Homo sapiens: one gene and its partner. The protein of the gene in region 1 interacts with the protein of each later gene in a biochemical or structural test. Each region holds a gene or a part of one and is shown in the gene's direction. Other genes may lie near its edges.

What was found.
Region 2: the proteins of TSHZ3 (region 1) and APBB1 form a complex in vitro, tested with the Homo sapiens proteins (one study listed by BioGRID).

What each region holds. Positions count from the first base shown.
Region 1 is NC_000019.10:31,276,148-31,283,796, reverse strand, and holds part of TSHZ3 (teashirt homolog 3), read left to right. Parts: intron 1-4,044; coding exon 4,045-7,250; 3' UTR 7,251-7,649. UniProt on the Homo sapiens protein: Transcriptional regulator involved in developmental processes. Functions in association with APBB1, SET and HDAC factors as a transcriptional repressor, that inhibits the expression of CASP4.
Region 2 is NC_000011.10:6,408,523-6,416,171, reverse strand, and holds part of APBB1 (amyloid beta precursor protein binding family B member 1), read left to right. Parts: intron 1-4,810; 5' UTR 4,811-4,824; coding exon 4,825-5,545; intron 5,546-7,649. UniProt on the Homo sapiens protein: Transcription coregulator that can have both coactivator and corepressor functions. Adapter protein that forms a transcriptionally active complex with the gamma-secretase-derived amyloid precursor protein (APP) intracellular domain.

The sequences.
Region 1 (7,649 bases):
TGTCAAGCTCAGTCTAGAGAAGAAAGCACAGAGGAACTACTCCACTTGCTGAGTGTTGGTGAGGTTGGCGTTTGCAGAGAATGAACCAGATTAAGCGACTTTACAGCTCGGCTCTTTACCTTCTCTGAAAGGCCATAAAATGATAGACATGTAGCCGAGGAAGGACGTTACAAATATTACCCAAGTGCCCCGTATCATTCAAAGAAGGAAATAGAGGCCTAGAGAAACAAAACTCTGCACTGCACAGTGTGCGGCAACCTGCCTGGTGCCTGTGGCAGCTTGATGCGTATTTGTGGAGTGCCTTTCATCCCTTAGTTCCCTCATTCCACTGGGTCCATTTCCATTTTCTAGAACATTTTTAAAGTTCAGTAATCAAGAGTATAAATATTCTCAGAGTAGTGAAATTATTGCAAAGCATGGTGGAAGATGGGAATTTTCCCTTTATTTTTATGTATTTATTTTTGGAGATAGGATTTTGCTTTGTTGCCCAGGCTAGAGTGCAGTGGTGGGTCATGGCTCACTTGCACCCTCCACCTCCGGGTTCAAGTGATTCGCCTGCCTCAGCCTCTGGAGTAACTGGGACTGCAGGCATGTGCCACCATGTCTGGCTAATTTTTTTGTATTTTAGTAGAGATGGGGTTTTACCATGTTGCCGAAGGTGGTCTCAAACTCCTGAGCTCAGGCAGTCTGCCTGCCTTGGCCTCCCAAAGTGCTGGGATTACAGGAATGAGCCACTGCGCCCAGCCCTTCCCTTTATTTTAATGTGGAGGGGAGAACCAGTGGGTAAAAGTCTTAGGCTCCACCTAAGGAAATACTTCTCACCTTCAGATCGGAAAAGAAAATGGTCATTTGAACAGGGAGTGAGGCCCACGTCACAGCCACGAGGGTGTGCGCTTGAAAGAACCCTCAGAAACCATGACATGGTCAGGAGTGGGGTGTGCGGTGAGGCCAGGTCTCTCCAGGACCCAGTTCTGCTTGGCACCAGAGCCTTTTAATTCTCCTCTGAGTTGGATCTTGTTCCACCAGGGAGGTTGAGAGGTTGGCCTTTTCTTTCCATATTAATTTCCTCCTCAGTCATCAGACTGATGACATTCTGACCCTGCTGTGTAGTTTACAAAGCATATCAGAGCGTGTTGTGGGCCAGCCCAGGAGAGGAGCTGGTCATATCATTCATGGTGCATGTGTTGGGGAGGGGTGCTCCGGACGGCCTGGGCTGGTTTGGTGCTTGTGCAGTGGGGGTGGGGAAGGCTCTGGCCATGGGGAGATGCATTGCCCCTGGGTGGAATGTGGGCTGGCAGAGCCCCTGGGTTTCCCTCTCACCTGGTGGCCTTCACCCACAGAGGACTCTTTCATGTCCACTATTGGCTCTGCTGCTTCTGGCTGCTGGTGTCCTCTCGTAGTGGCTGCTGTGGGGCCATTTCTCTCTCAGACTTAATTTCATGGGAGCCACTGTAATAGGAGCAAAATCCCCAGGGTGTGGGGTTTGTATTGCAGACTGTGGCTCCAAGAGGCATCTCCAGGACAGAAGGGGCTTTGATATCTTCACCCATCTACACAGGCCTGGGCATTTCCTTGAGTCTCAGTGGGAGGGACACCAGCCATGGGATTTCCTCCTCTTTCCCCGTTTACAATAAAACCGTACTATGGAAACATCATATATGCATGCACCCGGTGCACTTCTGCAGACAGTGGGCTGTGTCTAGCTAAACCCAGCCTACTCTGCTCCAGCTGTTCCCCGAGAGGATTATAAGAGAGGTTGCAGACCCACCTGGATGCTCTGACCTCAGTCATACTGTGTGCCCCAGCTAGGGTAACAAGCCATCCTTCAGTTTGCATAAGACTGAGTAAATTCCCAGGATGCAAGACATTCAGTGCTGAAACCAGGACAGCTCCAGGCAAATTGGGACACTTGGTTATTCTACCTCGGCTGTTCTTCCTCCAGGCCTGCCACTCCATTGGAGTTTTGAGTCCAGATTTCTAGAATGTGCTGCATGCCGAGGAAGTCTGTCGGGGGGCAGGTGAGGGAGAGTGAGATGTCTTCTTTTCTTTTTCTTTTCCTATTCTTTTCCAACACATGCATTCACAGTCTTCACTGTGGCTAGCACAGGAGCCTCCATTGGCCAGCGCCGTATTTCCCTAAGCATTTGGTCTTGGCCCTAGGAACAGAGCTTTTGCTGTCTTTATTTGTCATCTCAAAGTGCATGGCCTTAAACTTGAGGTTCCCCACAGCACTTCACACTCAGCTGACTGCAGCAGGGCACTCTCTTCTGGTCATTTGTAAAGAACATCCATGGCTCCTGGACAAGACTCTTGCTTAGTAGTTGGCAAATGAGCAGAAGTATCCCCCTCCCTGCAGCTGATGTGTGTACCTGGGGCAGTTCCCATCCAAGTTCACATTACATCAGTGTTGGGATTCCATGTGTCTTGGCTTAGGAATCTTGGCACTCAAAGTAGGGGGCTTAGGAGCAAAAGAATCACACCTGTCCTGGAAGGAATGAGGGGGGCCTATCTGCTTGACTTCAAGGGACTCATTTCACTGTTTTTGTTTGTTTGTTTGTTTATTGTTGTTGTTGGTTTTCTGATGTGAAATGGAACAGGGGCAAATCTTTAAAGCTGGTGGAGTCAATTCCACAAACAAAACTTCCCTTCCTTTCTTAAGAGCTTTTTGTAGAAATCAGCCTTGCAATTAGCACTGCAACGTTCCAACCACTTAACACACTTCCCCACTGGCCTTTTGAAGCAAACAAGTATTTAGAAGCTGACAGGACAAAGTCACTTTATTTCTCCTTTTCCTTTACCTTGAAATTGTTCCTAGCCACAGGGCTGGCCACTCCTCACTGTCCAAAAAACTACCCTGATGCAGTATGCAGTGGCAGATCAGTTTAGTAAGGAATAACCCAAGTCACCGAATGCAAGAGAATGAAAACAAAAACAAAAACAAAAAAAACACCCTGTTGCATTAACGCAAGTATTCTCTGGGCTCTGTGTCTCTGGACGTGCATCTTCCAGAACCTGCAGGCGCGTGGCCTGCCCTCCACCTGCGTGGGAATGCATGCTGGATTTACATCCCAGTTACATCGCTTCCAGAAAGACAGGATCTCTGTTGGATGCCCATGAAGCTTATACTGAGTAAATATTGACAAAGTAGTCTAAAGAGCAAACACTTTGACATTTGTAAGGTCCACTGGAAGGTCTTGTATATATTTATACATCAGGAATGAGCACCGCATACCAATTTTCCTGAACTTGTTGTGACATAATTCTGCATGGAGAGTGTGTGTGCACAGGTGGCTGAGAACGGCTGAGTGTTCACATGGGGGACAGGGCTGGGGGCTGGGTGGTAGCTGGTCAGGGTATTTCCTCTCAACTGGAACGAACCCACACCTATCCCTGCCAGGAAACCTACCTCTAAGCTTTTCTGAGACCTGCTTTTCCAGAAGGAAGAAAGAAAAAAAAAAAGCCACAAAATCTTGTTTTTCCCTTATTACAATGGACGTACTTTTCTTTTTACTTGGTAAAAATTTTATTGATGTTTTTATACTTTATATTTATTAAAGATTGAGCCTCAAAAATGTAATGAGTAAAAAATGCTTGCTTAATTTAAATTGTGAATCTGTCTGTTAAGAAATGCATTAGGGGTAGGAGAAGCATAAGACATATTAATTGACAGACAGGAACTGCTGTCTCTGAGGTTGATACAAGTAATTTATTACTTTAGAAATGAATGCCACCTCCAGAATGTGCTTCATTAATTTCAAATTTAGTTTTAATTTCAAGCTGTTGCCCCTTGAGAAGAATAAGGTGGCAAATTATGTTTGAAGAGCAGATTTTTTTTTTTTTTTGCTCCAAAGAAACACCACATTTTAACTGTTTAATTTTACAAATACATGTACCCATCTGGGTTGCTGTGTTTTCCTGAGAGCCCAGAACATATTCTAGGTAAGATCAACAAGTACTAATGCTTTTTTTTTTCTTTCTCTCCTTCTCCCTGTCTCTCTTCATTCCATCCTACCTGTCTCTCTTTCCCACCTGTTATCATGGCAGCCTATGTTTCCGAAGAGTTAAAGGCTGCTGCCCTGGTGGACGAAGGTTTAGACCCAGAGGAGCATACGGCAGATGGAGAGCCCTCGGCCAAGTACATGTGCCCGGAGAAGGAGCTCGCCAGGGCCTGCCCCAGCTACCAGAACTCCCCGGCCGCCGAGTTTTCCTGCCATGAAATGGACAGCGAGTCACACATCAGTGAGACCAGTGACCGAATGGCTGACTTTGAAAGCGGCTCCATCAAGAACGAAGAGGAGACCAAGGAGGTCACGGTCCCACTGGAAGACACGACTGTGTCGGATAGCCTGGAGCAGATGAAGGCCGTGTACAACAACTTCCTCTCCAACTCCTACTGGTCCAACCTCAACCTCAACCTGCACCAGCCCTCCTCGGAGAAGAACAACGGCAGCAGCAGCAGCAGCAGTAGCAGCAGCAGCAGCTGTGGCAGCGGGAGCTTCGACTGGCACCAGAGCGCCATGGCTAAGACGCTGCAGCAGGTGTCACAGAGCCGCATGCTCCCGGAGCCCAGCCTCTTCAGCACCGTGCAGCTGTACCGGCAGAGCAGCAAGCTCTATGGCTCCATCTTCACGGGGGCCAGCAAGTTCCGCTGTAAGGACTGCAGCGCTGCCTACGACACCCTGGTGGAGTTGACGGTGCACATGAACGAGACGGGGCATTACCGCGACGACAACCATGAGACCGATAACAACAACCCCAAGCGCTGGTCCAAGCCTCGCAAACGCTCCTTGCTGGAAATGGAAGGGAAGGAAGACGCCCAGAAGGTGCTGAAGTGCATGTACTGTGGCCACTCCTTTGAGTCCCTGCAGGATTTGAGTGTCCATATGATCAAAACAAAACACTACCAAAAAGTGCCTCTGAAGGAACCCGTCACTCCTGTCGCCGCCAAAATCATCCCTGCCACTCGGAAGAAAGCTTCCCTGGAGCTGGAGCTCCCCAGCTCCCCAGATTCCACAGGTGGAACCCCCAAAGCCACCATCTCAGACACCAACGATGCACTTCAGAAGAACTCCAACCCTTACATCACGCCAAATAATCGGTACGGCCACCAGAATGGGGCCAGCTATGCATGGCACTTTGAGGCCCGGAAGTCGCAGATCCTGAAGTGCATGGAGTGTGGGAGCTCGCATGACACCCTGCAGGAGCTCACTGCCCACATGATGGTCACTGGCCACTTCATCAAGGTCACCAACTCTGCTATGAAAAAGGGGAAGCCCATTGTGGAGACGCCTGTCACACCTACCATCACAACCCTGCTGGATGAGAAGGTCCAGTCCGTGCCCCTGGCAGCCACCACCTTCACGTCCCCCTCCAATACACCTGCCAGCATCTCCCCAAAACTGAATGTGGAGGTCAAGAAGGAAGTCGACAAGGAGAAAGCGGTCACTGACGAGAAACCTAAGCAAAAAGACAAGCCTGGCGAAGAAGAGGAGAAGTGTGACATCTCTTCCAAATACCATTACTTGACTGAAAATGACTTAGAAGAGAGTCCCAAGGGGGGGCTTGATATCCTCAAATCCTTGGAAAACACAGTGACATCCGCAATCAACAAGGCCCAGAACGGCACTCCTAGCTGGGGGGGCTATCCCAGCATCCATGCCGCCTACCAACTTCCCAACATGATGAAGTTGTCCCTGGGCTCGTCGGGGAAGAGCACGCCCCTGAAACCCATGTTTGGCAACAGTGAGATTGTCTCCCCGACGAAAAACCAGACCCTGGTCTCTCCACCCAGCAGCCAGACGTCCCCCATGCCCAAGACAAACTTTCATGCCATGGAGGAGCTGGTGAAAAAGGTCACTGAGAAAGTTGCCAAAGTGGAGGAGAAGATGAAGGAGCCGGATGGGAAGCTTTCCCCGCCCAAGCGGGCCACTCCCTCCCCATGTAGCAGCGAAGTCGGGGAACCCATCAAGATGGAGGCATCCAGCGATGGGGGCTTCCGCAGCCAGGAGAACAGCCCCAGCCCCCCGCGGGATGGGTGCAAGGATGGGAGCCCCCTCGCTGAGCCGGTGGAGAATGGCAAGGAGCTGGTGAAGCCCCTAGCCAGCAGTTTGAGTGGCAGCACGGCCATCATCACCGACCACCCGCCTGAACAGCCTTTTGTTAACCCTTTGAGCGCCCTGCAGTCAGTCATGAACATTCACCTGGGCAAGGCCGCCAAGCCCTCCCTGCCTGCCCTGGACCCCATGAGCATGCTTTTCAAGATGAGCAACAGCCTGGCGGAGAAGGCTGCTGTGGCCACCCCGCCGCCCCTGCAGTCCAAGAAGGCAGACCACCTCGACCGCTATTTCTACCACGTCAACAACGACCAGCCCATAGACTTGACAAAAGGGAAGAGTGACAAAGGCTGCTCCTTGGGTTCAGTGCTTCTGTCACCCACGTCCACAGCCCCGGCAACCTCCTCATCCACGGTGACAACGGCAAAGACATCTGCCGTCGTATCATTCATGTCAAACTCGCCGCTACGCGAGAATGCCTTGTCAGATATATCCGATATGCTGAAGAACTTGACAGAGAGCCACACGTCAAAATCCTCCACTCCTTCCAGCATCTCCGAGAAGTCTGACATTGACGGGGCCACTCTGGAGGAGGCTGAGGAGTCGACGCCCGCCCAGAAGAGGAAGGGCCGCCAGTCAAACTGGAACCCCCAGCACCTCCTGATCCTCCAGGCCCAGTTTGCCGCCAGCCTCCGGCAGACCTCAGAAGGGAAGTACATCATGTCAGACCTGAGCCCCCAGGAGCGGATGCATATCTCCAGGTTCACCGGGCTGTCCATGACCACCATCAGCCACTGGCTGGCCAACGTGAAATACCAGCTTCGAAGGACAGGTGGAACAAAGTTCCTCAAAAACTTGGACACTGGCCACCCCGTCTTCTTTTGTAACGATTGTGCGTCCCAAATCAGGACTCCTTCCACGTACATCAGTCACCTAGAGTCACACTTAGGCTTCCGGCTACGGGACTTATCCAAACTGTCCACCGAACAGATTAACAGTCAGATAGCACAAACCAAGTCACCGTCAGAAAAAATGGTGACGTCCTCCCCCGAGGAAGACCTGGGGACTTCCTATCAGTGCAAACTTTGCAATCGGACCTTTGCCAGCAAGCACGCTGTTAAACTTCACCTTAGCAAAACACACGGGAAATCTCCGGAAGACCACCTTCTGTATGTCTCTGAGTTAGAGAAGCAGTAGCATTTGCTTTTGATAGAAAGGACTGCAGTTTGCTTTGAGGGAAACTGTGGAAGGCACCTTCAGGCCCCCTCTGACTTGTTGTTCTTGGCACATGTTCTTATTTTAACTGCAGAGAATCACTCTGGGCTGGACTGTTTTGTATAACTGTACAGTGTTTAATAGAGGTGCATAATCAGCTGTTGTTACTGGTAAAATATGAAGGTTAAAATGCAGTGGTAAGTGTTTGGAACTTTGTGTAAACGGGATTTAGTTGTGAGCATCCTCCCGATGCTTCAAGCTGCATGCATTAACAGACAGTTTAATTAAGCATTTATAACGGAATCAGGCACACCTTTTCCACGAGACTCGAGTGTGCTGGCATTTCTCACCCTTTCATCTTTAGCCCTCTGAGTACTTTGA
Region 2 (7,649 bases), on another chromosome or scaffold:
CCGGATAGAGGCTGGATGAGAGATTCACGGGGTCAGATGCTGCTGGGAGGACAACCAAGACGAGCACTGTGTCTGTTGGATTGAATGACACAGGGGTCATGTTGACCTTGGTAGGAGCTGTTACTGAGTCGTGTTGGGAGTGGAAGCAGGTTTGGAAAGGGTTGAGGAGTGAGTGGGAGGTGAGGAAGTGGCAACAGTGAGTGGAGACAACTCTCTCAGGAAGTTTGCCTGTATGGGGGAGGAAAGAGAGCAGTGAGTGGATCTGGAGGAGCGTCAGGTCAAGTTGGGAGACCGTGGATCCTATTGAGAAGGAGAGGTTGATCATATAGAGGAGAAAATAGATAAACAGTGGTATAAAATTCCTGGAAAGGCATCATAGGAAGAATCCAAATCATAGGTGAAGCAGTTGGTTTTGGGAAGGAGAGAAAGGGATAGGTGCTGAAGTTTGGTTAGGTTTTTATGTTTGAGGATGTTACCCAGTTGGATGGCTTCCCTTTCCTCTGTGAATCAGGAGGGGAGATCAGCCTCTGAGACGGGTGGCCAATGGAGAGTTATGTCCTAGTCTCAGGCAGGCCTTTGCTGATGTCTTGGCTGTAGTAAGCCCCAGGTTCCTGTAATGCCCTCCTCTTCCTCCTTCATGATATTCAGTCAACAAATAGGGAATGCTATGGGTGCCAGGCACTGTTCTAGATGTTGGTGTTACACTGCATTGTAACAAGTTGTTCAATGACTGTTTCCCGCTGAACTGAGAACTCCTCCAGAGGAAGAACCATTTCTTTTGTCTTCATCACTCTCCCCTGTGTCTAGCACAGTGCCTGGCATATGGGAAGCTGTCAGATTAGACAACTCCTGACTTTGAGCAAGACTCAACCCCAACCCCTGTGGTCTGATGCCAGGATCTTCAGGCTTAGTGACTACTTCTTTCACTTCCTGCCCCGAGGCCCCTGCCCAACTCCCTGCCTTGAGCCAGAACCCAGTTGGCTCTTTGCATCCTTTGGTAACTCCAATGAGAGGGGAGAGATTAGGTTGTGTTCCTTCTTTAAAAAATTGGACTGAGATCATCTTTTTGACCTCGAGCAGTGGGGTGTTGGTGACCACACCACCTCAGGCTAGATGCTCAGGCTTCAGCACTTAAACAGTTTCACCATTCTTCCTCTAATACTTCCTGCCCTGGTGACCAGATTGGCGGGGCTGCCCTGAGGTCAACTTGGCTCTTCACTGTTTCAGCCTCACAGTGCATGCACTCTTCTCAGATCATATCTCCTAGTGCCTAGGAGGTTGGTCTCTGCCTGACCTTTGAGAAACCTGGCTCTGTACACTACTGCTTCAGAGAAGGGTTTGCCATCCTTAAGGTCCTCTGAGCATGGCAGAGTCGTGGAGTCTTCTGCTTCCTGACACCCATGGAGATGCCACTCTTGAACAGTGTCTGTGCCAAGATGTTGGTTTAAGCTACCTCCCTCGCTCCCTTTTCCTAGATCTCAGCCCTCACCTCTCCAGGATTCCTGTCCCATCTTACTTCCCACTCAGGGACCCTTTGGCATTCTCTGACACCCTCCCAAACACTCCCTTTGCTCCTCCCCAGCCCATTGGGCCACACAGCCTTTCTTGGTATTTATTCCCAGCCAGTTCTGAGCTTCCTGGATCCTCCCACCCCCTGTGTCTGTCCCGTTCATCCGTCCTTTCCTTCTGCAACAGCCCAGTCTGTGTCGGCACACGGCACACTCTCTTTGGTAATGGGAATGTGAAATTGAATAAGACACCGTCTCAGATATTCTGATAGAATGTGGTTCTGGGTGTTGTGAGACACGAAGGAGAGAACAGTCACTTGATGGTGGGGAGAGAACAGGAAAGACTGCTTAGGAGCTGTAACTGCTGAGGTTAGTTTTGAAATACAAGCAGAGGTTCTCACAAGGGGAGACAGAATTCCAGGCCGAGGGAGCAGTATAAACAAAGACCCAGGGCTTTAAGAGTGTGCGACATGTTTCAGAATCCGCCACGCTTCATGTGGCTAGAGTATAAGGTATAAAGGAGGCGGGAGGTGGGGAGGGGACTGACAGGTTATAGAGGCCGGCTTAAGAGGGCTCTTGGGTGTCTGCGAACGAGTGCAGGCGTTATCCGAAAGGCAGTGGTGAGCCCTCTCATTTTCTGAACCAGGGAGTGACACAATCTGGTTTCCATTTTTGGAAGATTACTGTGGTTCTGGGAGGAGGTAGAGCTATTTTTTTCTTCATTTATTCCAGTGGCTGTGAGTTTTCTCATTGGCCAGGAGGAGTCACACTGAGCAGATCAACAGCCCCACGTGAGGCAGACACGTGCGCAGAAACCTTTTTCATCTTACAGATGTGTGGGTAGCATAGCACTAGTGTCTGAGGAACTAGAGACGTAGAAAGGTGAGCTATGGGGCCGGGCGCGGTGGCTCACGCCTGTAATCCCAGCACTTTGGGAGGCTGAGGCGGGTGGATCACCTGAGGTCAGGAGTTTGAGACCAGCCTGGCCAACATGGTGAAACCCTATCTCTACTTAAAAGAAAAAAAAAAAAAGAATTACAAAAATTAGCTGGGCGTGGTGGTGGGCACCTATAATCCCAGCTACTCAGGAGGCTGCAGGAGGTTGCAGTGAGCTGAGATCGTGCCATTGCACTCCAGCCTGGGCGCACCGCACCTGGAGAGATGGGCAAGCCCTGCTCAGGTAGCTGCAAGACCTGTGCTCAGCGCTGAGAACACAGAGGGAAGGGGGGTAGTGGTGAGTCAGGGAAAGAAAGAACTCCTTAGTAGAGGAACAGGGAGATAGGGAACTCTCAGATAAGACATCAAGGAGAAAGGTCTGTACAGTGGGAATGAGAAAGAGCACAGTGCAGTGTTTGTTGGGATGGTCAGTGAGGGAGAATTGTCTGTTGGGGGAAGGGTCGGGTAGGGCAAGAGAATCAGTGAGGCCATCGAGGGAGGAGAGAGTAATGTGGTAGGGGCTGTCTGAAGGAGGGCTTGCATGGAGGGCTCAGGATGAGAGAGAAGTGGGCAGTGGTTGGTCAGGGAGAAATAACTGAAATCGGGGGCTGGTGAGGGTCCAGGGAGAGAGCACTTTCTCTTGGGGGTCCGGGAAGGAGAGCAGCAGAGCAACTGGAAGGTCAGGGAGAGTGGGGAGGATGGAATGGGGCCGAGGGTGGGTCCCTGGGTGGCGGGCTGGAAGGATAGTTGGGACTCAAATGGTTGCGGAGAAACTGACCCACGAAGGGCTGTGAGGAGGCAGAGGGAGGGGTCTGGAGGGGGAGCTGTCCTTGCGGAACAGGACGTCCTCTTACCTGAGAGGCAGGTGGAGTTTGTTTGGGGCACCATAAGGCATAGTAACGTAACCAAAGTGTTTTCTGACACTGGCAGAGGAGATGCCAAAGCGAAGCCTGGAGGAAATGGGGACTGATTCATACATTCATTCAGCAAATATTAATGGAGTTCCTGCTCTGTGCCAGGACTACGCTAGGCACTAGGCATACTGTATTTAACCAAAAAGGCAAAATCCTCACCAACATGGAAATTATAAATTATAGTCATGAGGAGACAATCATTAGACAAAGTAAATAATAAATTGGCTTGTCAGATGGTGACAGGCGCTGGGGAAGAGTTTAGGGATTGCTGAGGAGGGGCGGAGGTAGCCTGTGGTTTTAAAATGGGTGTTCAGGGAAGGCTTCACTGAGGCTGTGACATTTGGTCAAAGATCTGAAAGGCTGGGCCGGACGCAGTGGCTCATGCCTGTAATCCCAGCACTTTGGGAGGCCGAAGTGGGCGGATCACGAGGTCAGGAGTTTGAGATCAGCCTGACCAACATGGTGAAGCCCCGTCTCTACTAAAAATACAAAAATTACCTGGGCGTGGTGGTGGGCACCTGTAATCACAGCTACTCAGGAGGCTGAGGCAGGAGAATCACTTGAACCCGAGAGGCAGAGGTTGCAGTGAGCCAAGATTGTGCCATTGCACTCCAGCCTGGGCAACAAGAGCAAGATTCTGTCTCAAAAACAAACAAACAGACAAACAACCCCCAAAAAACAAAGATCTGAAAGGCTGAGGGGCCCAGGGGAAAGGCTCCCATAGTGATCCAGGACAGGGCATTATGAGGGCTGGCAGAGGGACCAGTGCCCAAGGGGAGCTACTTCATGGAAATTGTCACCAAGATGTAGCTTCATCTGGCCAGAGAAGCCATGAATTGCAGCCGAGCGCCCTCCCTCTGTGACCTGCCTTCCAGTGCCATGCCCTGTAGGGCTGGTTCTGCAGCTTATTTGCTCCTGTCCTCACAGTCCCTAGTATGGGGTGGGCTTGGGGGCTGGTTGAGCTGAGTGATTTATGGGAATAGGAACACAGCCGGAGGAGCTTACAGTGATGGGGCTTGGGATGGAAGTGCGGCCGGAGAGGGGCAGTCAGTGATCAGTGTCCAAAACACACGAGCCGGTCCCACTCTAGTGGTGTTCCTGGCACAGTAAGCCCCGGGTGGATGAGCTGGGGGGTGGGGAGGCACAGAGAGCCATTGTGTGGAGGCCTTGCTGGTGGGACCGAGGGCAGGCGCCAGCTGTGCCATCCCAGAAAGCTCAGGGCAGGGGATATAGGGATGGGGTGGGCCTCAGACCTGGGCCTGGACTGTGATGGGGATGATAGTGCTGGGACAGAAGTTGAACCCAGTCATTCTCATAGGATAGAGAGCCATGGGTGCTAGCCTGCTTAGTGCAGGGAGATGAGGAGGCACAGGGCATAGCCCTGGGGCAGAAGCAGTGATGCTGCTGTTCTGGACCAGAGGCTCAACAGCATCTCCCCTCCGCACCCCACAGGAGCTGCCAAGGCCATGTCTGTTCCATCATCACTGAGCCAGTCGGCCATTAATGCCAACAGCCACGGAGGCCCCGCACTGAGCCTACCCCTGCCTCTGCACGCTGCCCACAACCAGCTGCTCAACGCCAAGCTGCAGGCCACAGCTGTGGGACCCAAGGACCTGCGCAGCGCCATGGGGGAGGGTGGTGGGCCTGAGCCAGGCCCTGCCAATGCCAAGTGGCTAAAAGAGGGCCAGAACCAGCTCCGGCGGGCCGCCACGGCCCACCGTGACCAGAATCGCAATGTGACCTTGACCTTGGCGGAGGAGGCCAGCCAGGAGCCTGAGATGGCACCCTTGGGCCCCAAAGGCCTGATACACCTGTACTCTGAGCTGGAGCTCTCAGCTCACAACGCAGCCAACCGAGGCCTACGAGGACCTGGCCTGATCATCAGCACTCAAGAGCAGGGGCCAGATGAGGGAGAGGAGAAGGCGGCCGGGGAGGCCGAGGAGGAGGAGGAGGATGATGATGATGAAGAGGAGGAGGAGGACTTATCTTCTCCCCCAGGGCTGCCTGAGCCCCTGGAGAGTGTGGAGGCCCCTCCCAGGCCCCAAGCCCTTACAGATGGCCCCCGGGAACACAGCAAGAGTGCCAGCCTCCTGTTTGGCATGCGGAACAGTGCAGCCAGTGATGAGGACTCAAGCTGGGCTACCTTATCCCAGGGCAGCCCCTCCTATGGCTCCCCAGAGGACACAGGTACCTTGTGGAGCTTGACATGGGCATGTGGGAGGGTGTGAGGGCAGAGGTTAGGACTCTCATACAGAGGCCAGTGCCAGCCTGATGTGAGCTGAGAGCCCATACCCTGAGGCCACAGCAGGCCATGTCCAGGCTTTTTCATTCAGAGAGTGCTTGGACATTCTGGTAGATCTGACCATCATGCATGCCCGGATGGATGGATCTATTCATTATGCATGCCACCATGGTTGATAAGTGGACTAGTTTACTGGGCACTGACTAGGTAACTGGCCCTCTGCTCAGCATTTTCAGGCTTTATCCTTACAATAAAGCTGTGAGGTAAATATTATGATGATTCCCATATTACAGATAACAAAAAAGAGATCCAGAGAGGTTTAGTAGCTTTCTCGAGACCACAGACAGGCTGAGATTACAATAGAGCTGAAATCTAAACCAGGTCTCAGTCCAGGCCTGAGCTCTTGGCCCCGTGTTATGCTGCCGCCAATGCATAGAGCACAATGCACTCAGGTGCACTTGGGACAGTCGGCCCCGTTTTTTTTTTTTTTGAGACAGAGTCTCACTCTGTCGCCAGTCTGCCCCGTTTTAACAGGTCACGCCTGTTGGGAGCAGCCAGCAGCTCCCCACAGAGGTCTGTTTGGAAAGACTGGGAATGTTGTGTGCTTATAATCCACATGCTCCAGCACCATTGCAAGGATACAGTTTTGTCAGGAGTAGGATATTGACTAAAAGTTAGAAAAGAAAACCCTTTGGGTAGGGGGAGGAGAATAGATACTAGGACTCCAGGGCTTAATCATTAAATATGTCCATTTAAATTAAGCTGAGTCTCCACATTTTCTAATGTCGTGTAGCGAATACAGGAAAAGCTGAGGAACAAAGAGTGGAGATAATGGGCTATAGTTACAACCAAAACCCTGGAGTTTTGTAGATGGAGGTCTAAGAAAGATTAGGAAAGACCCCTATCCTTACCAGGTGGCGGACACAATACCCATACCCCAAACTGTGCAATCTTTGTGGAGAACATGCAGTTCAGATGAGCCTAGGGCTGCACACCATCCCCTTTCGAAAAACTCATTCTGGACATTTTCAAACATACACAAAAATAGAGAGAAAAGAATAATGAGCCTGATTTACCCACGAGCCAGTTTTACCAATTATCAATACATAACTAATCTTGCTACCTGCATGCTCTCTTCCGTTCCTAGGCCCAGCGTAGGTTATTCTGAAGCAAATACTTTTATCTATAAATGTTTACAGCTGGGTGCAGTGGCTCACACCTGTAATCCCAGCATTTTAGAAGGCTAAAATGGGTAGATTGCTTGAGCCCAAGAGTTCAAGACCAGTCTGAGCAACATGGCAAAACCTCTCCTCTATAAAAAAGACAAAAAAATTAGCCGGGAGTGGAGGCATCAGCCACTGTGGTCTCAGCTACTCAGGTGACTGACCTGAGAGGATCATCCGAACCCAAGAAAGTCGAGACTACAGTGAGCCATGATTGAGCCACTGCATTCCAGCCTGGATGGCAGAGAGAGACCCTTTCTCAACAACAACAACAACAGTTTACTTTTGCATTTCTGAAAGATAAAACTCTTAAAAAAAAAACCCACCACAATATCATTATTGTACCTACAAAAATTTAATAATAATTCTTTAATATCATTAAATATCCTGCCAAAAAAAGGCTGGATTGAGCCTGGGCACAGTGGCTCACGCCTGTAATCCCAGCATTTTGAAAGGCTAAGGTGGGTGGATTGCTTGAGGCCAGGAGTTCAGAAACAGCCTGGTTAACATGGTGAAACCCTGTCTCTACAAAAAACACAAACATTGGCTGGGCATGGTGGCTTATGCCTGTAATCCCAGCACTTTGGGAGGCCGAGGCAGGTGGATCACGTGAGGTCAGGAGTTCGAGATCAGCCTGGCCAACATGGTGAAACCTTGTCTCTACTAAAAATACAAAATTAGCTGGGCGTGGTTACAAACGCCTGTAATCCCAGCTACTCGGGAGGTTGAGGCAGGAGAATCACTTGAACCCGGGAGACAGAGGTTGTGGTGAGCTGAGATAGAGCCATTGTACTCCAGCCTGGGCAATAAGAGCGAGACTCCTTCT